Linked DNA regions of Homo sapiens. The protein of the gene in region 1 purifies or fractionates together with the protein of each later gene. This does not show direct contact. Each region holds a gene or a part of one and is shown on either strand. Other genes may lie near its edges. The genes, in order: VSIG1, RANBP6, GHITM and UBE4A.

The links.
Region 2: the proteins of VSIG1 (region 1) and RANBP6 purify together in Homo sapiens (co-immunoprecipitation; 3 studies listed by BioGRID and IntAct, with this or other methods). This does not show direct contact.
Region 3: the proteins of VSIG1 (region 1) and GHITM purify together in Homo sapiens (co-immunoprecipitation; 3 studies listed by BioGRID and IntAct, with this or other methods). This does not show direct contact.
Region 4: the proteins of VSIG1 (region 1) and UBE4A purify together in Homo sapiens (co-immunoprecipitation; 3 studies listed by BioGRID and IntAct, with this or other methods). This does not show direct contact.

Annotation. Positions count from the first base shown.
Region 1 is NC_000023.11:108,040,603-108,048,094, reverse strand, and holds the start of VSIG1 (V-set and immunoglobulin domain-containing protein 1 isoform 2 precursor), read right to left. Parts: upstream 3,031-7,492; 5' UTR 2,965-3,030; coding exon 2,916-2,964; intron 1-2,915.
Region 2 is NC_000009.12:6,012,621-6,019,901, reverse strand, and holds the start of RANBP6 (ran-binding protein 6), read left to right. Parts: upstream 1-4,277; 5' UTR 4,278-4,294; coding exon 4,295-7,281. UniProt on the Homo sapiens protein: May function in nuclear protein import as nuclear transport receptor.
Region 3 is NC_000010.11:84,149,502-84,154,094, reverse strand, and holds the end of GHITM (growth hormone-inducible transmembrane protein), read right to left. Parts: intron 4,041-4,593; coding exon 3,852-4,040; intron 3,387-3,851; coding exon 3,215-3,386; intron 1,832-3,214; coding exon 1,747-1,831; 3' UTR 527-1,746; downstream 1-526. UniProt on the Homo sapiens protein: Plays an important role in maintenance of mitochondrial morphology and in mediating either calcium or potassium/proton antiport. Mediates proton-dependent calcium efflux from mitochondrion.
Region 4 is NC_000011.10:118,354,711-118,362,607, reverse strand, and holds the start of UBE4A (ubiquitin conjugation factor E4 A), read right to left. Parts: upstream 3,009-7,897; 5' UTR 2,934-3,008; intron 1-2,933.

The DNA.
Region 1 (7,492 bases):
AAGGCGGAAGTTGCGGTGGGCCGAGATCGTGCCATTGCACTCCAGCCTGGGCAACAAGACTTAACTTCGTCTCAAAAGAATATATATATGTGTATATATATATATATATATATATATATATATATATATATATGTGTGTGTATATATATATATATATGTGTATATATATATATGTGTATATATATATGTGTATATATATATATGTGTGTATATATATATATGTGTATATATATATGTGTATATATATATGTATATATATATGTGTATATATATGTATATATATATGTATATATATATATATATAGAGAGAGAGAGAGAGAGAGAGAGAGAATGTCTTGTATTTTGGTGGTGATTGTTCATTCATTTAATGCCTACAAGGTGGCAAACATTTTGCTTATAGAAGGATTATTATCCTCCTAATGTACCACAGCAAAATATCCCCCAAATATTCATATTTAATCTGATAGATTTGAAGTGATTTAATTTCCAGCAACTTCATATATAATAGATTCATTTTGACTTAGGAAATAATATAATCAAATGATCACTCACTTTTTTGGATTTGAGTGCAAACTCAAAGTTCAAATATATTACTCCTTTAAAATGCATAGCATATACCTCCAGAAAATGAAACCCACATTAACATATCTTTCTAAGAGGTGACTAATACATATTTCAAATACCTAAAATGATATGCATAAATTTTTTGCAGAAGTTTGATTAAAACTCGTTTTCCTGAATTAGAATTTAACCTAAGAATTCCTAAGAAGTCATTGAAAATATTTTGATTTAAGCAAAATCTGACCTGTTTAGTTATATCAAAATCAATTTTAAATATGTATGTGAAAATGATGTCTGGATGTTTGGAATTTGGGAAAGTAATTCATTCTTTCAACAAACATTTACTATGCATCCACTATGTGTTAGGCACCACGCTTAACACCAAAAAGTGACATTCTCTCCAAAACAAGTCCAGGAAGAACATCAAATTGCACATTGATGGAAACACTATCAGTTGTCCAGATCAACTGATGAACACTGCTAATGACAGGTGTAGATTACTAAAGTGATCCTTTCTCTGACTTCAATACATATGTAAGCACAGCAAACGACAATAGAGCATACCACAATTTGCTGTACTGACACTACTGCTTTGGGCCAACTAGATAATATGTGTGTAGATATATAGTGTACACTATATACCAACAAAATCAGTTATATAGTAACTTAGGAAACACACTCTGAAGTATTTATTGGTCTTGTTCTAAAAGTCACAATAAAATAAAATCCTGACATGATGCTAAACAATTTTTTTAAACAATAAAAAAGTATACAAGGAATAAACCCAATTTTTAAAATGTAATATATACACCTGCAAATAAAAGAATAATAATTCACCCAAATCTGAGTGGTAAAATTGCAGATGATTTTTATTTTATTTTAAATTTCCATATTTCCAACCTTTCTACAATGACCATGCATTACATTTATAATCAGTAAAAATTACTTGTATGTTAGGTACAGTTAAAAAAAAAAAAAACTGTTCTTAACAACCGTTCCAAACCCTGTGCCTAGTATGGGCCAGGGCAAGGCTTCACATAGGGAAACAGGTATGATCTTAGAGGGCTGATGCAGAAGGCCCAGGGGTCGACCCAACTGGCTAATGACTGGAAACCCTTTAAGAAGAGACAAAACTTCCATATCTAAAGTTACATTTAAATGAATATGCCTGGGGAGAAGGGAAAATAGGAACATGTGTTTCCAGCTCTAGGGCCTAGTTAGGTCACTGGACAAATGGAGTATTGCCTTCTGGTGATGTTTAACTCCATAAAACATCTATGCTTAAACATTTAGTAATGAACATTTAAAGAACTATTTCTAAACATGAGATCACTTTGAAAAGTAACACTTTTTTCTAATTATAAAAATAGCATAATGTTCTTCGTAGAAAACCCAGGAAGTATGAAAAGCTGGGAAATAAAATTAAAATCATCTATAATCCCATCACCCAGAGGCAACCACCATGAGCACTTCGGTATATAACCTTCTAGTAATTTATTCTAGGCATATGTGTGCATCCTGCTTTTTCACTTAATATTTTATCGTGGGTATTTTCTTATGTCATTAATACGCCTAGTAAACCTCATTCTAACCACTGCCTAATATTACTAATGGCTTGAAAATCCTGTTTTTGGATAAACAATATTATTGTATTTACTATGGACCTAACTTATAAGAACAGATGCAAAATGTATCTGATATTTGAAAACTACCCAAGGGATTTTTGGAATTAATGATCTCTCCTGGATCTAACTAACATCAGTATTTTGATTCCAAAATTGATTTTCTTCTGTTCAGATACCTAAAATCACCCATGTTGTGCACCATAAATCACTCACATATTTTGCAAAATACAGTCTTAGGATTGGAAAACCACAACTCCTTAAGAAATATTAGACAGTAAAGTACTCAGTAAATTTCTGTTCTTCCCATATGTAAGCCAGGGCAGGCCCTCCAACCCAGGCTCTGCCTGCTAGAGCAAGTCAATCACTGAGCTTAAAGGAAACACTAAAGTAAGTAAAACAGAGACAAAATTATCCCTAGCACAAAGTTTGGTTTCTGAGTAAATTCATTTTTTTCACTTTTCAAAGTAAGTAAAGTAATAAACTATATTTTTTTCTGAGAAAATTTTCATTCAGAAGCTCCATAAAACAATAATATTATGGGCTTACACCCCTAATATATCAGCATGGCATATGTTTGCTAAGCAAGAGTTCTGAAAATTAACTCATCATACTAATCACAATTCATTTGAAGTACAGGAGATGAAAATTCTATGTAAAAATGTGGAATTTTTATTTAAAAGGAAACTCTGTTTCCAATTATATTTGGTGGTTTGGAGATCCTTTCCTTACCTGCAAGGCAGCTTAGGATCAGAAAGACCTTCCAAAATGCGAACACCATTGTGTGGAGGTTAGTTGAGAGCAGCAGGTGCCAGTAGCTTGCCTGGACTAGGCTGAGTCTCAAATTGGCTTCTTCGATCACACCGAGGTTTGCCTGGCTTATCTGCTGGGCATCGCCAAGCAAACATGCCTCTTTGGGCTTACTTATTGCGTATAGACTTTTTTCAGTACAGATTTGTGTTTCTTTGAAACACTTTTCATGGGGCGTGTTTCCTTGATATATTTGCTACTGTGTTAATAATAAACCCACGCATTTAAATTATTCAAGCTCCTTGTACACAGATTCTCTAAGTCTCATTGTTTAAAATCAATCTTACTAAAACGTTGTACTTGGGCTGGGGGATATGGTTGGAAGAGAGCCTATGCAAATAAAAGCTGACAAGGCTAATTAATTTCAAATATTTCCATGAGTCTTACAGAATTGATTCACTAACCTCCTTTTACAAATTAAGTTAGTAAATTGGTACTATATCGTTTCCTGGGGAGATGGGGCTCACGGGAAGGGCACAGGGGTTATGAAGCTAAAAAGCATTCATTTCTGTGTGAACAAACTCTGGATATGTTACTCTTTTTTGAAACACTGGCAGTTGTCACTACCCTCCACCAAAACTAGCAGTAAAATGATTTACATGCTTTTGTCTGTCGGGTTAGAAACCTTATAGCACGTATTTGCTAACGTAATTTTGCAAAATCAAGTTAGTGAATACATGCTTAAAGACTTTCTTTGGAGAAGTCTGATTTTTTGGAGAATTAAGATACTCAGTAAATGCTATAGGGTTTCCTTAGAAATGGAGGTTCACCAGGAGGGCATGGGAGGCTCCACAGGTAAGGAACTTTCATGGGAACATGAACTTCTAATAGTGTTCCTATTATGCTTAAGTTACCCGGAGAAACCTAAGGACTTTCTCTGGCTCTTCCCATGTGATTTCTAAGTCCTATCATTTCCATCTCCACAGCGACTTTCAGATGTGTTCTTTCTCCAATCTGCTGCTTCCATCTTGGTCCAGGTACTCAGCTTCCCACTTTGGCCTATCATAGCAGCTTCCTAAGTGGTCTCCCTGACTTATTCCACCTTCATCCTGTGTGCCAGCCGCAGGCCAATGTTCCAGCCCTAGTGAAATATTTCCAGTAACACCATAAATGGACTCTTTCATCAAATCCAAAGTCCTTAATATGGATTCCCATTCTTCCAATATCTGATCCTCACCTCATCTGAACTTTAGCCACATTAACTCATGCCCCTGAAAAAGTATGTCAAGATTTATTGCCTCAAAGTGTTCAGTCACATGAAATGTGTACAAATTTCAAGTGATATGTTTTATGTTCCTGTCTTTAATTTACAGGAAATGTTTGACCCCATCTTACTTTAGCCATTCCAATCTCCCACTGCTTCTTAGAAAGCCATTTTGCTTCCATCATGCCTGATTCCTCCTTGCAGCCTATCCTGTCCATGCTCATGTCTGATGCCAAACGTTGGCTCCAGGTGATTTCCATCACTAGAGTTTTCTTCTTCCTCCTCTTACTAGCCAAGTATATTCTTAGCATAGATCAGTCATACTGTCCTATGTGAGAATTTCAATGAACCGACATACCACCCTAGCATAAATTTCCATTTTACTTAAAGCCAATATCCTACAGCTGACCATTGATTATTCTCCAGTAGTTTCGCATTTATTAACTGGTCTACCTTAAATCTAGTCACTGTGAATCCCTCCAGGGTAGGGACCATGTCTTATACAGGCAGTTCCCAACTTTAAAATGAGCGTGTCCCAAGATGTAATGGTAAACTCGTTGACTGCACGCAAGAACTCCTGCAGAAGCAATGTTATAATATGAGTCTCACTGTCAGGCATGTAGCACATAATCTAGCACTGGCTTGAATTCTGCGTACTGGGCCGTATAAGGCAGTGGAGGGTGAGGAGGAACAGCAGGTGACAGAGAAAGAACGTTCCTTTCATTTCCCAAGATATGACTTGTGCACAAATCAACATTTTCCCCCAAATAACTATTGCATGTCTCTGACATCCACCTTCTCTTCTGCCTCCCACCTTCACGGCCCCCTGGCTCCTGGGTCCCTAGTTTGCCCTAAGGGAGAGTCTCATTCCCCAGAATATCTCATGCTCCAAAATTACTTTTTCCTTTTCACCTCTATTCCTCCCAGAAACCCTCCCTTTCCCCTGTATAAGCAGACAGCAGCTCCATGTTAGGAAGGGAAAAAAAAACGTTTCATTGAACATTCTCCAACCTGTTTGTGCTATTAAAAATACAGTGCTTACTTTCCTCACATAAATCTCTGACCAGGAGAATTAGGCAATGCAATAAAGAGAAATAGTTTGAGGGAGAAGATTTTGCAAAGGAGGACAACTTGTAGGGTGGGTCTCTGGAGATCCATACCACCTTTTCTCAGGCTTGGTTCTGCCTTGACTTCTAAGTCCACCAAGTCTCTAAAAGACCCATAGTTTTCACAATGCCCCCCACCCTGGAAGTAATACCGGTAGTTCCAGTGGTGAGGACGTGGGATGGGGAGCGAAATTTATAAGTCTGGCATTTGTAAGCCAGAAGCTTCCTGTGTTTCCTTCCATGCCCCATAAGTGATTATAGTAGTGTGACCATTGATCATTAAAACTAGGACACTTTTGAAAGTGAAAGGGGCACTATTAGCAATTACCTGGGAAAGACAGCATAAACAGTAACAGTGCCAGACAAACCTGGGTGTCTGGTTACCTACCCACAGGGGATTACTAGGCACAAAGTAGGTGCTAAGTAAGAGCTTGCTAATTAATTCAGTATGTCTGAGTTGGTTGGCCCTAAGATGAGTGCAGCAGAGGGTATGATTTAAGGATATTGCCCAAACCCATCTGCACCAAAATCTGTTGTGCAAACACAAAACACTCTGGAATATTTAAGTAAAATATCTATACTGCTGCTATGTAAGACCTAACCAGGACAGGAAGAATTCTGTTATAACAAACTCTAAAAGAGAATTTAAACTCTCTGCTTGGACCTGGATTTTGATGTTATTAACTATTGCTTAAAAAGTGGGTCATTAACTAGGACACGAAATATTAAATATCCTTTGCAGTTTTATAGAGCTTTATAATTTTTAAACTAATTTTCCATTTTATCTTTGTAGCTTTCCAATACAACAAATAAATCAGGTATACCTACATTTTCTATATAAGAAAACTGAGGCTCAAAAGTGCTGTGCTTTTCCCAAGGTCACCATAGCACGCATTAGAAGCTGTTCCTATCACACCACACAATGGCACGGTGTGATTGTAATGTAACAAATATGCTACTGCCCCCAGTATTCTTCCTTGGGAACTTTCAGAAATATGTGATATCTGATTTATCCCTCATTTTTAACTTAAAAATTACAAAAGTAATACATTTTGATAGTAAATGGTTTTCAAAGGACAAACAAGGATACAGAGGAAAAAAAGTCCCATTCATTCACTCACACATGTAATCCCTTTCCCAGGCTCACATGGAACAGGAGTTTAGCATTTTTCTCAGACCTTTTTCTATGCATGTACACATGCACAAACACACACACACACACACACACACACACACACGAGGTTTTTTAAAACATAAAGATGATAATACTGTACATTTTGTTCTATAATTTGCTTTTCTCCCTTAAAAAAGGTATTTTTATTCTCTCTTTCTGTCACTGGGTCCAACTGCATCTATAGATCAACCTTGTCCATGTTAAGGCTGCATGGTATTTCATGATATGAATGTACCTCAATTTATTTAATCATTCTCTTATTGGTAAATTCTTAGATGGTTTCCAGTTTTTCAATATTATTGACAATGGTTCAATGAACATGTAGCTTTCCAATACAACAAATAAGTCAGGTATACCTACATTTTCTATATAAGAAAACTGAGGCTCAAAAGTGCTGTGCTTTTCCCAAGGTCACCATAGCACGCATTAGAAGCTGTTCCTATCACACCACACAATGGCACGGTGTGATTGTAATGTAACAAATATGCTACTGCCCCCAGTATTCTTCCTTGGGAACTTTCAGAAATATGTGATATCTGATTTATCCCTCATTTTTAACTTAAAAATTACAAAAGTAATACATTTTGATAGTAAATGGTTTTCAAAGGACAAACAAGGATACAGAGGAAAAAAAGTCCCATTCATTCACTCACACATGTAATCCCTTTCCCAGGCTCACATGGAACAGGAGTTTAGCATTTTTCTCAGACCTTTTTCTGTGCATGTACACATGCACAAACACACACACACACACGAGGTTTTTTAAAACATAAAGATGATAATACTGTACATTTTGTTCTATAATTTGCTTTTCTCCCTTAAAAAAAGTATTTTTATTCTCTCTTTCTGTCACTAGGTCCAGCTGCATCTATAGATCAACCTTGTCCATGTTAAGGCTGCATGGTATTTCATGATATGAATGTACCTCAATTTATTTAATCATTCTCTTATTGGTAAATTCTTAGATGGTTTCCAGTTTTTCAATATTATTGACAATGGTGCAATGAACATCCTT
Region 2 (7,281 bases), on another chromosome or scaffold:
ACTGGCAGAACTCTCATCACAGTACACCTGAAGGCCTCTCTGTGTCTGAAAAAGCTGTACCCTTTACTTAGAACAACTTTCTCTCTTTTCAAATGGTTAATGAGGACTCATTCTTCAAAAGTCAACTCTGATACCTCCTCTGGGAAGCCTTACTTGATCAACCCCATACCCAGAGTAAATTAGCTGCCTCCATAACCCCATATGGCTCCATGGCAGGCTTATCATTACTACAGTGATCACTACGCTATGTGACATTTACTATCTCTGTTTACTATGAGATTCACATATCTTCATGAATTTAGTCTTTAATACCAGCAACTCAGCACCATGCTTGAGTGTACCCTCAAAGAATGCTTGCTGAGAGACTAATTGAATAATTGCATACTCTTTTTCTTTCTTTTTGTTTTGAGACGCAGTCTCGCTCTGTCACCAGGCTGGAGTGCAGTGGTACAATCTTGGCTCACTGCAACCTGCGCCTCCCGGGTTCAAGCAATTCTCCTGCCTCAGCCTCCCAAGTAGCTGGGACTATAGGCACGCGCCACCACGCCCAGCTAATTTTTGTATTTTTAGTAGAGATGGGGTTTCACCATGTTGGCCAGGATGGTCTCAATCTCCTGACCTTGTGATCCGCCCAACTCGGCCTCCCAAAGTGCTGGGATTACAGGCATGAGCCACTGCACCCGGCCAAATAATTGCATAATCTTAACCCAGAATTTTTCAAACATTTTTTTCTTTTTCTTTTTTCTTTTTTTTTTTTTTTTGAGATGGAGTCTCCCTCTGTCACCCAGGCTGGAGTGCAGTGGTGTGATCTTGGCTTACTGCAACCTCCGCCTCCTGGGTTCAAGCAATTTTCCTGCCTCAGCCTCCCTGAGTAGCTGGGACTACATGCGCACACCACCAAGTCCAGCTAAATTTTTTGTATTTTTAGTAGAGACGAGGTTTCACCATGTTGGCCAGGCTGGTCTCGAACTCCTGACCTCAGGTGATCTGCCCAACTTAGCCTCCCAATAGCCTCCCAAAGTGCTGGAATTACAGGCATGAGCCACTGCGCCCAGCTCATTTTTTTCAAAGAGGTTGTACCAATTTACCTATACTCTCAACAAAAATATAACTGAGTTTCCTGTTGTTCCACATCCTCAGCAACCCTTGGCTTTGTCAGACTTTTAAAGCATTGTGGTAGGTCTGTGGTGGTGTATCACTGTGGTTTTTTTCAATGTCTTTCATATGCTAGTGGATATAGTATTAAGTAATTAATTAATTATTATTAACATTTCCTGAAACGGCAAATGCAAAGTCCCTCCAGTTAGACTTTTTGAAGGAACAGTAAGAAAACCAATGAATGGGCCAGGTGTGGTGGCTCATGCCTGTAATCCTAGTACTTTAGGAGGCTGAGGCAGGTGGATCACTTGAGGTCAGAAGTTTGAGACCGGCCTGGCCAACATGATGAAACCCTGTGTCTACTAAAAATATAAAAATTAGCTGGGTGTGGTGGTGCATGCCTGTAATCCCAGCTACTCAGGAGGCTGAGGCAGGAGAATTGCTTGAACCCAGGAGGCAGAGGTTGCAGTGAGCTGAGATCGTGCCATTGCCCTCCAGCCTAGGTGACAGAGCGAGACTCCATCTAAAAAAAAAAAAAAAACAAAGAAAGAAAGAAAACCAATGAATGCACAACTGTAGTCATAATCTTAGAACCAGAATTGATCTTATCAGCGATTCTCAAATGTTGGTATTTATATAAAAACCCAATGTGCTGGTTGAAATTGTACATTCTTAGTCCTCAGTCCCCCCAGAATTCTGGGTTAATAGGAACTTGGGCCCTAACATCTATATTTTAAAATAGGTATCCCAAGCAATTCTAATGCAGTTGGTTTTCAGTCTACAGAATGAGAAATTCTATTTTAGAAAATAGCTCTGTTTCATATTACAGTGTCTTTTTTATGAGACAGAGTCTTGCTGTGTCGCCAGGCTGGAGTGCAGTGATGCAATCTCGGCTCACTGCAACCTCTGCCTCCCAGGTTCAAGCGATTCTCCTGCCTCAGCCTCCCGAGTAGCTGGGACTACAAGCATGTGCCACCACGCCCAGCTAATTTTGGTACTTTTAGTAGAGACGGGGTTTCACCGTGTTGGCCAGAATGGTTTTGATCTCTTGATCTCGTGATCTGCCTGCCTCAGCCTCCCAAAGTGCTGGGATTACAGGTGTGAGCCACCATGCTCGGCTACAATGTAATTTATGAGACTACCTACTTTGTCTATCATCTGGTTAATGTAAAAGCTACGACTTTCTAATTTTTGTGGGTATATGCGGCAGCACTTTACAAAAACAAAATTAAGGCTGCTTGGAAAAGTTTAAGACAGAATTTGCAGTAAGTGAAGCCTCTGATCATGCTGCAAAACCAAGAGTAGTTAATGGGGAAGCAATATGGTGAAAAGAGCATCAGTGTCACTTTCAGAAGAGGTAGAATTGAGACTCAGGTGTGTCATCCTAGGCAAATCCTGTAACTTCCCTTAGTTTCCACTTCTCACCTAAATTTAGTATTATATCTATCCTAGCAATCTCTCAATTCTGTATAAGGGTCAAAATGAGTGTGGCAAGTGCTAATACAAAAGTAAGACCTAATCATTGTTATAGGAATGAAACTTGTTTTTGATTGACACACCTGCCTGAATTAAAGAAACAAACTGGCCAGGCGCGGTTGCTTACACCTGTAATCCTAGTACTGTGGGAGGCCGAGGCGGGTGATCTCTCACGAGGTCAACAGATCGAGACCATCCTGACCAAACATAGTGAAACCCCGTCTCTACTAAAATACAAAAATTAGCTGGGCGTGGTGGCATGCGCCCATAGTCCCAGCTACTCAGGAGGCTGAAGCAGGAGAATTGCTTGAACCCAGGAGGCAGAGGTTGCAGTGAGTTGAGATCGCACCACTGCACTCCAGCCTGGCGACAGAGCGAGACTCCATCTCACAAAAAAAAAAAAAAAAAAAAGAAACAAATTTAGTTTCATCAACATTTGTTTCTTGGAATAACCTCAGCAGCTTCCCACTAATGGTTAGTTAGGATTCTAGTTAACCGCATCCCTTCATATTTCAGTTTAGACAAGATGCAAGGAAAATCTTGAGTAACTTGTCCTAGGATACAAAATTAATTTAGTGACAAGGCCAGGATGCAAGTCTGTCTTCTGATTATTAGTTCAGATCACTTTCTACCATACTTTACTCAGTTGTCTTTCCCATTCTTTATTATAACCAACAGGCCAGGTGATTCTGACACACACCAGATTTTGAGCTACCACTCTACTGCATTAGATGTGGTAGTGGGGAAGTAATTATTATTTTATTATCACACTTATTATTTTATAAAGCTTTATTGTAGTATTATTTATATGCCATACAATTCACCAATTTAAATTTAACAACTCAATGGTTTTTAGTATAATCACAGAATTGTGCAACCATCACAATTAATTTTAGAACATTTCATCACTCAGAAAGAAACACCCTATTTGATAGCAGTCATTCTCTATCCTCCCCTCCCCCCAACCTCTGGCAACCACTAATTTCTGTTATACAATTTGCCTGTTTGGTACCTTTCATACAAATGGAATCATACAATATGTGGTTGTGACTGGTTTCTTTCACTTGGCATGTTTTCAAGATAGACTTATTGTTTTAAAATTATCAAAGTAACAATATAGTTTAGAAATAAAAGAAAAAAATCACTCATAATCTGACCAGAAGCAGTGGCTCACACCTGTATTCCCAGTACTTCGGGAGGCCGAGGCGGGCAGATCACCTGAGCCCAGGAGTTCGAGACCAGCCTGGGCAACATGGCGAAACCCTGTCTCTATAAAAAACACAATTAGCCGGGCGTGGTGGCGCGCGCCTGTGGTCCCAGCTACTGGGGGAACTGAGGCGGGGAGGATCGCTTGAGCCCAGGAGGTTGAGGCTGCAGTGAGCAGGGATCGCGCCGCTATACTCCAGCCTAGGTGACACAGCCAGACCTTGTATCCAAAAAAAAAAAAAGTCATGATCCCATTCTAATCAATGCTTTTCTTCTCTCGCCTGCAAGTGCACGTTTATCTTATTGAAAAACAAATGGAGGATGCCATTGGCCTCCACACGGCTCTCACCTCTCTCCAAAACCTAGCTCGCAGCCTGCCAGAGCGCAGCTAGAGTTTCTGGGCAGAGGAGGGAGAAGCACCCCGCCCATCCCCGCCGGCGCCTCGCCTACGTCACTGCTTCGAGCCGCAGACCCCCTCCCTCCTTCCCGGTCGCGGTAGCTTTGACAGAGCGCAATGGCGGCAACCGCGTCTGCAGGGGTGCCGGCGACCGTGTCAGAAAAGCAAGAGTTTTACCAGCTTCTGAAGAACCTGATCAATCCAAGCTGTATGGTGCGGAGGCAAGCAGAGGAAATCTATGAAAATATCCCAGGTCTGTGTAAGACTACCTTCCTCTTAGATGCCGTCAGAAATAGAAGAGCAGGTTATGAGGTGAGACAAATGGCTGCCGCACTGCTACGACGGCTTTTGTCCTCTGGGTTTGAGGAGGTTTATCCAAATCTGCCTGCTGATGTTCAGAGAGATGTCAAGATTGAACTGATTCTGGCTGTTAAGTTAGAAACACATGCTAGCATGAGGAAAAAACTTTGTGATATTTTTGCAGTGCTGGCCAGGAATTTGATAGATGAGGATGGCACTAACCACTGGCCGGAAGGTCTGAAGTTTCTTATTGATTCAATCTACTCCAAAAATGTGGTTCTATGGGAAGTTGCACTTCACGTTTTCTGGCACTTTCCTGGGATTTTTGGGACCCAAGAGCGGCATGATTTGGATATCATCAAACGGTTGTTGGACCAGTGTATTCAAGATCAAGAACATCCAGCAATCAGGACATTATCCGCTAGAGCTGCAGCTGCATTTGTACTTGCTAATGAGAATAATATTGCTCTTTTCAAAGACTTTGCAGACTTGCTTCCTGGAATCTTACAGGCTGTGAATGACTCATGCTACCAGGATGATGATTCAGTGCTAGAATCCCTTGTTGAGATTGCAGATACCGTACCTAAGTACTTGGGTCCTTATTTAGAAGATACTCTACAGTTGAGTTTGAAGTTATGTGGAGACTCTAGGCTTAGTAATCTGCAGCGCCAGCTGGCCCTCGAAGTTATAGTGACCTTGTCTGAAACTGCCACTCCGATGTTGAAAAAACATACAAATATTATTGCACAGGCAGTTCCTCATATATTAGCAATGATGGTTGATCTACAAGATGATGAGGACTGGGTAAATGCTGATGAAATGGAAGAAGATGATTTTGACAGCAATGCAGTTGCTGCGGAGAGTGCACTAGACAGACTGGCTTGTGGGCTTGGTGGAAAAGTTGTTTTACCAATGACCAAGGAGCATATCATGCAGATGCTTCAGAGCCCTGACTGGAAGTATCGACATGCTGGATTAATGGCCTTATCTGCCATTGGAGAAGGATGCCATCAACAAATGGAATCAATTCTAGATGAAACAGTTAACTCCGTTTTGCTTTTTCTTCAGGATCCTCATCCAAGGGTGAGGGCTGCAGCCTGTACTACACTTGGACAGATGGCTACAGATTTTGCACCTAATTTCCAAAAGAAATTTCATGAAACAGTGATTGCAGCTCTGTTACGTACCATGGAAAATCAAGGTAATCAGCGTGTGCAATCACATGCAGCTTCTGCTCTTATTATTTTTATTGAAGACTGCCCTAAATCATTGCTAGTTCTATATGTGGATAGTATGGTGAAAAATCTACATTCCGTCTTGGTGATTAAACTTCAAGAGTTGATTCGGAATGGAACTAAGTTGGCTTTGGAACAACTTGTGACAACCATTGCATCAGTTGCAGATACAATAGAAGAAAAATTTGTCCCATATTATGATATATTCATGCCCTCACTAAAGCACATTGTTGAGCTTGCTGTTCAGAAGGAACTCAAGCTTCTGAGAGGAAAAACTATCGAGTGCATTAGCCATATTGGTCTTGCTGTTGGGAAGGAAAAATTTATGCAAGATGCATCAAATGTGATGCAGCTGTTGTTGAAGACACAATCAGACTTAAATAATATGGAAGATGATGACCCTCAGACCTCTTACATGGTTTCAGCATGGGCTAGAATGTGTAAAATTCTTGGAAAAGATTTTCAACAGTACCTTCCACTGGTTATCGAGCCTCTTATTAAGACTGCTTCAGCTAAACCTGATGTTGCTCTCTTAGACACACAGGATGTGGAAAATATGAGTGACGATGATGGCTGGCAATTTGTAAATCTTGGAGACCAGCAGAGTTTTGGAATTAAAACTTCAGGACTTGAAGCAAAAGCAACTGCTTGCCAAATGTTGGTTTACTATGCTAAGGAGTTAAGGGAAGGGTTTGTGGAATATACAGAACAAGTTGTGAAGCTGATGGTTCCTTTACTGAAATTTTATTTCCATGACAATGTTCGAGTGGCAGCAGCAGAGTCCATGCCTTTTCTCCTGGAATGTGCAAGAATTCGTGGCCCAGAGTATCTTGCACAGATGTGGCAATTCATATGTGACCCCTTAATCAAGGCTATTGGTACTGAACCAGATACAGATGTGCTCTCAGAAATAATGAATTCTTTTGCAAAGTCCATTGAAGTTATGGGAGATGGTTGCCTTAATGATGAACACTTGGAAGAACTGGGAGGAATACTGAAAGCAAAACTTGAAGGGCACTTTAAAAACCAAGAATTGAGACAGGTGAAAAGACAGGAAGAAAACTATGATCAACAGGTTGAGATGTCTCTGCAAGATGAGGATGAATGTGATGTTTATATTCTGACCAAAGTATCAGATATTTTGCACTCATTATTTAGTACTTATAAGGAAAAGATTTTACCATGGTTTGAACAACTACTTCCATTAATTGTAAATCTAATTTGTTCAAGTAGGCCATGGCCAGACAGACAGTGGGGATTGTGCATATTTGATGACATCATAGAGCACTGCAGTCCAACTTCATTTAAATATGTAGAATATTTTCGGTGGCCAATGCTACTAAATATGCGAGATAACAACCCTGAAGTCAGGCAAGCTGCTGCTTATGGCCTGGGTGTCATGGCACAGTTTGGTGGAGATGATTATCGTTCTTTATGTTCAGAAGCTGTTCCACTTCTGGTAAAAGTTATTAAGTGTGCAAATTCCAAAACCAAAAAAAATGTCATTGCTACAGAGAACTGTATCTCAGCAATAGGGAAGATTTTGAAGTTTAAGCCTAACTGTGTAAA
Region 3 (4,593 bases), on another chromosome or scaffold:
GACTAAGGAAAACAGGCACTTTAAGATCACACTGATATGGGTATCAGGATGGGGAGAAGAAAAATAGAAAATTGGCATTTACATTTTTACTAATAAAAAAAAGCATCAATAGCTAAGACTTATGTAATGCTTACTAAGTGCCTGCACGTTTAACCATAAACCTATAAGACAGGTTCCAATATATTCATTTTACAGGAGAGGAAACTGGGCACACAGAGGTTAAGTAATTTGCCCAAGGTCACATAAGAAATAAGAGTTGAGATTCAAATAGAGGTAGTCTAGCTACAAGTATCATGTACTTATCACACTGCACTATACTATACTGGCAAGAAACTAAGTTGCTTTCTTGAAGAAATCCCTATTCAAATGGCATGCATATGATTCACTTGGAAAAATTAGACTAATCAACATCTGGCTGAAACCTTTGTTTCAGAAATAAGCCTCCTATGTACTTTGAGATGATTAACAGTATTTCTGCATTACTGTAATAAACATTTGTCAAAAAGAGCAATCACCTCAGTCATCATACAGACTTCTTTCCCTTCATTAAAGACTTCTAAATATAACTCTTCTGTATCAAAGAACTTACAAATGTCTCAAGAAAGTAATGGTGTAGCAGTGTAAGAGAAGTAAAAGTCTGCTAGGGGAAACTAATGAAGCATTTTCCTCATTACACTTTTGGGTTGATATATTTCATTAAGACAGAACTAGTTCTGTTTTGCTTTGCTTTTTAGTGCTTAGTCTGAGAGGCAATGCGAGAAACCAAAAGTCTTAGGAGAAAAACTGCTTTCATAATTTCCAGTGTAAGCCACAAAGAAGCTTTTCTATAAAGGCTTGAAAGCTTGAAGAGGTGACAAGAGCAAGCTGTATTCAATTAGACAGTTCAATAAATATGCAAAAATAAAAAAACACTTAGCAATCATGAGTATACTGTTTGTATTCTGGAAAAAGCAACATATTTCATGCTTTGAATATTTTCTCTTGAGAATAGTTTTAAAGTTATTTCCTTTTGTAACATTCAAAAGTAAAACACACATATATAATTCCATCAAGGATTCTCTGTATGATTAACATTCTGTACAAGTCAAACATGACCACATCTATATTGGAAAGAGAGCACTGAGAAGCAACAGCAGGAGAATGCATCACCTGTGCCTGTTTCAGGATGAACAGTTTTGTTAAGTTCAGCAGATGAATGTAACAATGACCACTTGTTTCCAAATACCCAGATGTTTCTTACTGGCTCCTCACTAATCAATAACACAAGTGCTAAGTTCTAAGTATTTAAAAAAACAAAAGACTGCAGGTGACTCCTTCTCTCTGGTCCCTTTACCAAAGCTCCAAATCACTTATGACATTAATTACAATATTCTGCACTCCAAAAAAATATGCAAACACAGGTTTGCTAAATTTTAGTTACTCAGTGAACCTACTAAATTTTAAAGTAGAAAAAAGACTTACATTCTCATGACACAAACTTTAGTTTTCACATTCACCAAAACATTTTAAAATCACTCAAACATGAGAATTGAAAATGTGTGTGCTTATTTGGGAGAGGATTACTGCATTTATTCTCCAGAAAAAAAGGCAGACCTGAGGCATCACATTACCGGAACATTTAAATATGATGACATGTTTCTTATCTTCTAAACTTCAACGAAAGCTGCTTGTACAAACTATTTAATGCATATCTGCCCCATTAAACAAGATATTTGATGTAGCAGAGAAGCCAGAAGCTGAGTCACTTCATTTCTTTCTGTTGCCTCCAGTTGCCAGCATAGTTGCAACTCGCATAAATATATTTAATGTATCCATGTAGATACTCAGCATCCTAGAAAAGAAAATTATGCCCATTATATATGATGCAATTCTAATAGTGATGTTGAATTCTTAATATAGAAAAGAAGAAAAATACTATTTGTCTTAGTGATATAAAATGGAAATTAAAAATAAGATGTTTAACTGCCAACTAATGAAGTACTAGACTAGAAAATAGTTAAGGTCTTCCTTTTGGCAGACTCATCTTTTAAATGTTAAAGAGCAGTTTAAAAAAATCATTATTTTATTCTCTGACACTCTGCATATATCAACTTGCAAAGAAAACTAGGTGGCAGACAATGAAATAATCAAAACAAGACCAAAGAAACACCTTTATAAAAACCTGTTAGACACAAGTCTAGCATTTTTTAATATAAAAGACCCACTTCACCCCTCTAAAGAAAACTTCTACAAATCTGTAAGCTTTACAGTACAGCAACTTTTTCTTCCCCCTAAACCATTACATTAAGTTTTATTTTTAGATAAAATCAAATTACTTTAAAAAAATGTGACAGACACAATGAAACTCAAGAAAATTGTTTAAATAAAATAACCCACTTTGGTCGACTCCAAGAAAAAAGAAAAAAACATAATAACAATTAATACCAACTAAAGTTGCATATCTCTGAAACTAGACTCTTTATACTGAAGAGTTTCTAATTTCTAGAAGTATAAAATAGGCTTTTCTATTAAAAATTCCATGTCAATTATATACATTTTCCAATAAATAATACTTGATTAATACATTTCTTCAGTTTTAAAGTCTGCAAAATACACTACCAAAAAAATTAACTGAGCAGTAAGAGCACATTATTTATTGCACCCTGACACTGGCTCACAAAAATAGACAAAATATTCTGATAATGGAATGAATACCTAAGTATTACACTAAGTTGCAATAAAATCAAGAGGTTTTTTTGGATAGTTTACTAAAGAGAGAACAGACAAAACTGCAACAGAAGTAAAACAGGAAATCTGACAAAGCCATTGGTGTGGTTTGAGCTGTGACCCTCCTCTGCCCCCCAACAAAATATAATGAAATCCTAATCCCTGGTACACAGGAAGAGCACCATGTGAAGATGGAGACAGAGACTGGAATGATCCATCTACAAGCCAAGGAATGTCAAGGACTGCCAGCAGTAACAAGAAGCTGAGAGGCAGGGAACAGATTTTCCCTCAGGGCCCTCAGAAGTACAACTCTGCTAACACCTTGATTTTAGATTTCTGGCCTCCAGAACTACAAGAGAATCAAGTTTTGTTTTAAGCCACCCAGTCTGCGATACTTTGTTAACAGTATCCCTAGAAAACTAATACAGCCATAAACCAAAACAGGTCAAATACACACAAGCATCCTTATGTGACAGAGTAACAGTGTTAAATAAAAAGCATTACTTACGAGTTAATGGGATCATATTTTTGAACTCCATACATTGGTGATACTTCTGCACGCTTGATTACTTTCTGGGTATCATACAGAAGGAACATGCTGAAAAGAACTAATCCACCGTACATTGCCACTGAGTAAAGAGTGGCACCAGCCACGGTGGTAGGTGGAAGAAACATAGATCCTGAAATCAAAATGCGAAAACAAGATTTTTTTTAAAAAAGGATTTCCGATAACTGAGTTTATGATTTATATTACTTAAAAAAAAATCTCCTTGGTATACTGTGTAGGTAAGACGACATCTGGGTACATGTACTGTCTAATCTTATTTGCATTAGTTCAAAATCCATGATACTCATTCCTCCAATGAGCCACTTGCCCATTTCACAGGAAGGTTCTTGCATCAGAGCAATATTCATGTTCTCCAGACCAACTTTCCCATTTTAGATGTGTTTGGTAAAGCCAGTAATAATGGTTGACCATGTTGCCATGATTTTTATATGATGTCAGGTAGTAAAATCCAGTCAAATTAGCATAAATCTTTAAAAAAACTTTTAAAATAAATGACTCAATCAATTAGGATATTGGAGTATTTCAGGTTACAGGAAACTATGCACCAAGAATTAAGTGTTAAAACACAGCAGCTTACCCAATGAGGACACAAAGACGAGACCCAGGCCCACTCCCAGGGGTGCACCCATGTTCAGAAACTTTTCACTGGGCGCACACATGGCCACAGTGGAGAGGCCTCCCACAATGCCAGCTGTGTACCATGCAGCTCTGATGAGAAGAGGACCCCCTAATATTGTCAGAGGAGCCACCACTGCACCCATCACACCTGGAGAAAGAGGAAGTGCTCATTAAGTATTTACTAAATAACAAGCAAAAGGAAAATATCACTTCTAACATGCCACTTTATATTATACCTTACTGTTTAAGCACTATGATTCAAAAAGTTCTGCCTTTAGATAATACTACCCCCACCAAATTCTACAGCCCAAATTGGTGACTACTCAAATTCTATATCACAACATTAACACTATTCCTAATCAATCACACTCACAAGCAAACACTAATCTACTTATTTAGTAACCATCAAATTCCATGTAGCTATTTGAATCTGAGCTTACCACTAGTTTCTACAACATTCATATAATAATTGAGATAAACAAGCTTAAAACAAATAACTCAAGGTCAAACCTACTGCTGTCAAAAGGGAAAGCATATGATGATAAACTTAAAATGTGGGAACTTCTAAGACAGACACTGCTGTTTCTTTATGTAATAAGGACTGCTAACAGCTTATAAATAAGTAATTTTAGTTGTCAGATATTTATAAACAATTTCGTAAAAAATTTACCAGTAATTCAACAAAGGTAAATGGAACTCCT
Region 4 (7,897 bases), on another chromosome or scaffold:
CAGTTATAAAAACCAATAAAATTTCCCTAAATGCCTAAACCAGTTTGATGTTTTTTAAAACACAACTGAAAAGTGTCCAGATTATTACAAAGGACATGCATCACCTGCAACACGTAAGCAGAAAGGAAGCTGAAAGCCAGGAATATAGGACATATGACAGAGAAGCTCTTAAGACTATCAAGAAGGCCGGGCACAGTGGTTCATGCTTATGATCCCAGCACTTTGAGAGGCCAAGGCGGGCAGATCATGAGGTCAGGAGTTCAAGACCAGCCTGACCAACATGGAGAAACCCCATCTCTACTTAAAACACACAAAAAATTAGCCAGGCATGGTGGCGTGCACCTGGAATCTCAGCTACTCAGGAGGCTGAGGCAGGAGAATTGCTTGAACCTGGGAGGCGGAGGTTGCAGTGAGACAAGATCGTTGCCACTGCACTCCAGCCTGGGCAACAGAGGGAAACTGTCTCAAACAAACAAACAAACAAAAAGACTATCAAGAGAAACAAAAAGAATTTATCACCATAAACTGCATTACTTCCTTCTTTCTCAATACTATACTGTTGCACTGTATAAAGAAACTAGCTTTCTACATTTTACCTCTATTTTTACTAGGATTTTAAACTTTCTGCATTGTATTTCTAAGCAGATCTTCTACATTGCTAGGCTGTAAGCTCTTCTGATTACATGTTCATATCTGATTATTCTTTCTTCTGTGTCTGGCATTATACATCACAATCACAAAATCCTAAATAAGTAGTTATTGAATGGCTTCAATCTTACATGTAGTTCTTTCTGAACTCCTTGTAATCAACAGCATCACCCATGACCCTACTTCAAGGTAAGGGCTTTACTACTTGTCTTAGGTTGCAGTGGAAGGTCAAGCTACCAGGCTAGACACTGGTTCTTTGGTATCTTGGCATGTGTAGAATGGTGGATGGAAATAAGTCTCTGTTGTCATCTCTACTATCTGTAAAAAACAAAAAGGTTCTCACCTATCTTTCACTAAGCTCATCTTTTTCACACGTATGTCAAATCTGTGCACAAACTTTTTTTCATTAAAAAAGGGCTAAAACTGTGTAGTCACTTATAGAAAAATTTTACAGGAAAAAGGAGGACTGATCACTTGATGAGAACCTTTGTGGAGATGCCAGTTTAGATTTGTTCAATGGACTTACCAAAGTAAGAGTACCCAGATAATCACCCACTCTAAAGGTCCGATAAAATGAAACCTAAATATTTTGTTTAATATTCAATAATGTCATTCGGGATTTATAATCTCCTATTTTCAGCGCCGGGCGCAGTAGGTCATGCCTGTAATCCCAGCACTTTGGGAGGCCAAGGCAGACAGATCACTTGAAGTCAGGAGTTTGAGACCAGCCTGGCCAATGTGGTGAAACCCCGTCTCCACTAAAAGCGATTACAGGCGCATACCACCACACCTTAGCCAGGCTGTAATCCCACTACTTGGGAGGCTGAGGCAGGAGAATCACTTTTAAACTGGGAGATGGAGGTTGCCGTGAGCTGAGATCGTGCCACTGCACTCCAGAGCAGAGCCTGGGTGACAGAGCCAGACTCTGTCTCAAAAAAAAAAAAAAAAAAATACACACACACACACACACACATATATACATACATATATGTATGTATTTTTTTTCCTATTTTCAACTGCCATACAGAGATACAACACTATCCTGTTGTCAGACACTTTGGGATGGTACAGCTACCAACCTTAGAAGCTTTTGGATTTGATTCTTTTAAAATATATCCTCCTTGAAAACAAGTTTCACTCTGATACACTTGCTGCAAAGATCTATATCTATAATAGCTGTCCTACAAAATTCTGTCACTTCCTCCTAATACAAGCTTTTGTTTATGAATAGTACCACTAATCCTTTAAGACCACTGTCAGCTCTCATGAACACACAAGTGTGTTAACATCAGACTTGGTATTGTTTTTCAACAGAAATATCTGGAACACTTTGTAAAACTGGGATCGTCAAAATCAAGCTCTATCAAATCATACTCCCATAAGGTCTGTGTCCTGGCAAATAATACATATATCAATATAAAATAGAAATTAAAATATCAATTTAAAATAGAAATTAAGAAACAATTTTCGTTGTCGTATGTTTCACCTAACACTATCAGGCCATGCTAATGTGGCAACAAATTCCATCAACACATCTATCTGCAGCCTAGAAGGATCTCAAGTCAAAAAGCAGACAGCAGTCCTTCTTGGATCCCATTTTATCGCAGGTGGGCTTCCACGTGAGACCAAAACAGTAAATGACAGCGAGACTAAACACATGCTTGCTGTCAGGGCATAAAACTGATCCTAAAAGGAAGGCTCATCAAATATAAGGTCATGAGGCATGGTCACTCAATTTTAGAAGTGTCTTCTAAACCCAAGGAAACATGAAGCAGAGTGCCCCAAGAGTTATCTGTGGTGAACTCATCACCTGCCTTAAGAATTATCAACACCCTGACGTATGCATTGAACTGGTTTGCTTACGACTCACGATTAATCTTATCTTCTTGGCATCTGCCTATTTGTTATCTACTCTTTATATTTTATCCTTCCATGCTCCATAAGGGATTCGCGGGAAGGAGGGAGATCCACCCGCCCGGGGCACGTTCTAGAGAAAGTTAAGTCAAAAGATAATGCAATGATAGCGCTCCGGCCTCTTCCAGGAGGGGCTTGGCAAAGATGGGGACAGAAATGTACAAAGAGACATCAGAAGCTGGGGCACTGTAAGGGGTTCCAAATCAGACAGGGTCGAAGTTCAAGAAGGAGAAGGTCCCTGGTTAGCAAAGCATAGGAGAAGGAATTTGGAGAAGATAAGAGTGAACAGGCTTGAAGTGGCATTGGACCAGCAGAAAATATCACAACGCAAAGTCAACGACCCCGTCCCCTGAAGCTATTGCCTGTCTTACCAGAGCCTGAAGTGCCAGCAGCGACGACACGACAGAATCTCAGCGGCCGAAGGGTTCCCACTTCCGACTCAGCACAGCAACCGGAAGTTACGTCATCAACAAGCGCCGGGGCATGTGGAAGTTCATCTCCGCGCCGGAAGCACGGTGTGCAGGCTCACCGGGGGGAACGGCGCGCAAATAGTCCTACAGCGCATGCGCTAGCTTGTTAGGGGCGGGCTGGAGGCGGGCAGGAAGTGGCAAGAAGTGGCCTTGGCATCGGATTGTGGGGGCTGGAGTTGGCCCACCTGGCAGTGCGCTTTGGAGTATAGAATATGAGGCTGGGTTTTGGAAATCAGCGTACCGAGGGCAGATAAAACTCTGTGATCCCTGGCTCTGCTCGCAACCTCTGTTGGGGGTCTGCTCTCTTATTTTCCCACCAGTCCTAGACCTTTTTGAAGCAGCTTCTGTTACTCTCTATTATTCAAAGGGATAACACTAACAGCAATAACAACTACAAGTTTGTTATTGTTGTGCTGTCTTTGGAGCAATCTTTGGAGTGTGCTATCTTTGATTGGATTTCAGTTTTCTTATCTGTAAAGTGGAGACAGTATACATCCTACAAGGTTGTTTTGAGATACACATAGATGGCCAGGCACAGTGGCTCACGCCTTGTAGTCCCAGCACTTTGGGAGGCTGAGACGGGCGGGTCACGAGGGCAAGAGATCGGGATACACATAAATAATAGAAGCAGCATAATTTTCAAGAGTTAAAAGCGCTGTGCAAGTGAAAATTCACAGATTGAGAGAAAATAGTTGCAACTCATATATCTGATAAAGGATTCATCTCTAGAATATGTAAAGAACTACAAGAACGAAAAACCCCCAAACAGTTCAGTTCAAAAAAGGGCAAAGGACTTGAATAGACATTTCTCCAAAGAAGATACATTCCAAGAGAATGACTATCCACTTGGTATCTGTGGGGGATTTGTTTCAGGACCCCCTTGGGTACCAAAATCCAAGGATGCTCAAGTTCCTTACATAAAATGATGCAGTATTTGCATATAACCTATGCACATCCTCCTGTGTCATCCTAGAGATGACTAAGTCATCTCTAGATCACTTATAATACCTAATACAACATAAATCTAAATAGTGTTGTATTGTTTAGGGAATAATGACAAAAAGTCTGTACATGTTCAATACAGATGAAATTTGTTTTGGAATATTTCCAATTCATGGTTGGTTGAAGCCACAGATGCAGAGCCCACAGATATGGAAGGCCAACTGTACAAATGGTGGATAAGCATATGAAAGAGTGCTCAACACCACTAGTCTTTAGGGAAATGAAAAAAAAAATCATGAGATACCACTTAATACCTACTAGGATGGCTACTATAAAAAAAAAGGAAAGTAATTGTTGGCAGATGTGGAGAAATTGAAACCGTATGCGTTGCTGATGGCAATGTTAAATAGTCCAGACTTTTTGGAAAAACAGTTTGATGATTCCTCAAAAAGTTAAACATAGTATAACCACATGATCAAGCAATTCCGCTTTGATATAGATGTTCAAAATAACTGAAAGCAGGAACTCAGATACTTGTATACATATATTTACAGTAGCACTATTCATAATAACCAAAAGGTAGAAATAACCCAGAATGTTCATTAACAGATGAATGCATAAACAAAATATGGTATATAGCTACAGATGACTTATTCAGCCTTGAAAAAGAATGAAGTTCTGATACACGCTGAAACATTGATGAACCTTGAAAACGTTATGCTAACTGAAACGAGCCAGACAGAAAGGACTAAATAGTGTATGATTCAGTTTATATGTGGTACACAGAATAGGCACATTCCTTGAGAGAGAAAGTATAATAGAGGTCACCAGGGATTGGAGGGAGAGGCGAATGGGAGTTATTGTCTAATGGGTACCAAGTTTCTGTTTAGGAGGATGAAAAATTTCTGAAATGGGTAGTGATGATGGCTACACATTGTGGATATATTTAATGCCATTGAATGGTACACTTAAAAATAGTTAAAATGGGGTTGGGTGCAGTGGCTCATGCCTGTAATTCCAGCACTATGGGAAGCCGAGGTGGACAGATCACTTGAAGTCAGGAGTTCAAGACCAGCCTGGTCAACATGGTGAAACCCTGTCTCTACTAAGAATACAAAAATTAGCTGATCATGTGGATGTGCGCCTGTAATCTCAGCTACTTGGGAGGCTGAGGCAGGAGAATCGCTTGAACTTGGGAGGCAGAGGTTGCAGTGAGCCGAGATCGTGCCACTGCGCTAGAGTGCCTGGATGACAGAGTGAGACTCTGTCTCAAAAAAAAAAAAAAAAAAGGTTAAAATGGTAAATTTTAGGTTACATATCTTTTACCACACACACACAAAAAGCCCTGGGCAATCTTTGTGTGCCTACCACTGTTCTAGTTCCTAAGGATACCATAGTGAAAAAACGTAAGTGTTTTCCTTCTTGGAGCTTATAATCTGGCGAGTGGGGTTGTAACAGCATTTAAAATTAATGGACGCAAAATGAATCATTCAATAATATTTCTGGAATAGCTGGGTAACTATCTGTATTTAAAGTTGGTTACTACATTAGATCTGATGCTAAAATCAATTCGAGATGGGTCAAAGATATAAATGCATAAAATAAAACCATAAAAATGCTAGAGGAATTCATGGGGGAACTTTTAAAAAAGGATAATTTTAAAATGGAGAAAGACTTTCTAAATATGAAACGTAACCTAGAGACCATAGGAGACCAGTGAATTATACTACATGCAAATAATTGTAAAGTGTGCGTGAAAAACTAACCAATGTGTTTTTTAAAGCAAAGTTAAAAAACACATAAAGTTGGAAAAAGACTTGCAACTAATATCACAAAAGACCTAGTTTCCCAAATATGTAAGGGGTTAGTGTAAGTCAATAAGAAAAAGACCAAAGATGTGAACTTATGTATCATGAGAAGGAAAAACAAATGGTTTACTCCAGTTTTTTTTTTTTTTTTTTTTTTTTGAGACGGAGTTTCACTCTTGTTGTCCAGGCTAGAGTGCAATGGTGCAATCTTAGCTCACTGCAGCCTCCACCTCCCAGGTTCAAGCAATTCTCCTGCCTCAGCCTCCTGAGTAGCTGGGTTTACAGGCACCCACCACCACACCCAGCTAATTTTTTGTATTTTTAGTAGAGACAGGGTTTTGCCATGTTGGCTGGGCTGGTCTCAAACTACTGGCCTCAGGTGATCCACCTGCCTTGGCCTCCCGAAGTGTTGGGATTACAGGTATGAGCCACCACACCTAGCCTCCAATTTTTAATAAGAAAAATGTAAACTAAAATTATAGTGAGAAGCCATTCAGTTTGGCATGATTCAAAAGTTTAATAATACACTGTTGGAACATGTATGGAGTAACAGGCACTTTTGTTTGTTGTTATTGGTAGTGTATATTGGTACAACCTGGCTGGGCACAGTGGCTCACACCTGTAATCCCAGCACTTTGGGAGGATGAGATGGGAGGATCACTTGACCCCAAGAGTTTGAGACTGGCCTGGGCAACATAGTGAGACCCTCTCTCTATAAAAAAAATTAAGCAATTAGCTGGATATTGTGGCACACGCCTGAAATCTCAGCTACTCAGGAGGCTGAGGTGGGAGGATTGCTTGAGCCTGGGCAGTCGAGGCTGCAGTGAGCCAATGTTGTGCCACTGCACTCCAGCCTTAGCAACAGAGCAAGACCCTGTCATATATACGTATATGTGTGTATGCGTATACACACACATATATGTGTGTATGCGTATACACACACATATATGTGTGTATACGTATATACACACTTGTGTATATACGTATATACACACGTGTGTATATATGTATATGTGTATCTACGTATATACACGTATACGTATATGTGTATATGTGTATATGTGTAGATACACATATATGTATGTGTATATGTGTATATGTGTATATATACATATATGTATATGTGTATATATACATATATGTATATGTGTATATATACATATATGTATATGTGTATATATACATATGTGTATATATACATATATGTATATGTGTATATATACATATGTGTATATATGTGTATATGTGTATATATACATATGTGTATATGTGTATATATACATATGTGTATATATACATGTGTATATGTGTATATATACATGTGTATATGTGTATATATACATATACATATATGTATATATACATATACGTATATGTGTATATATACACATATACGTATATGTGTATATATACATATATGTATATGTGTATATATGTATATATGTGTATATATGCATATATGTATATGTGTATATATGTGTATATATGCATATATGTATATGTGTATATATGTATATATGTGTATATATGCATATATGTATATATGCATATATGCATACATGTATATGTATATATATGTATATGTGTATATACACTTGTGTGTGTGTACGTGTTTACAACTGCTATTTGGCAATAGTTAATAAAATTACAAATGCAAATACAAGTGCCCAACAATTCAATTTATTTGTGTTTGTTACAAATAGTCTTATGTATGTTCAAAATCACATTTATTGTTAGAGCTAAAACCATAAAGCTGTAAAAAGTATAAAAAGAAGACAGGAGAAAATCTTTGTAACTGTGGGTTTGGTAAAGATTTATTAGACATGATACCAAAAGCACAATATATAGAAGAAAAAATCAATAAAATGTACTTCAAAATTCAAACCTTTTGCACTTCAAAAGACACCATTAAGAAAAACAAACCACAGATTGGTAGAAAATATTTCCAAATCATATATCTGATAAAGGACTTATATCAAAAACATATGCAACCCAATAGTAAGAAGACAAACAAATAAGTCAACTTAAAAATGGGCAAAAGATTTGATACACATTTCACTAAAAATATATGAATGGTTAATAAACACAAGACAGGACACTCAGCATGGTTAGTAT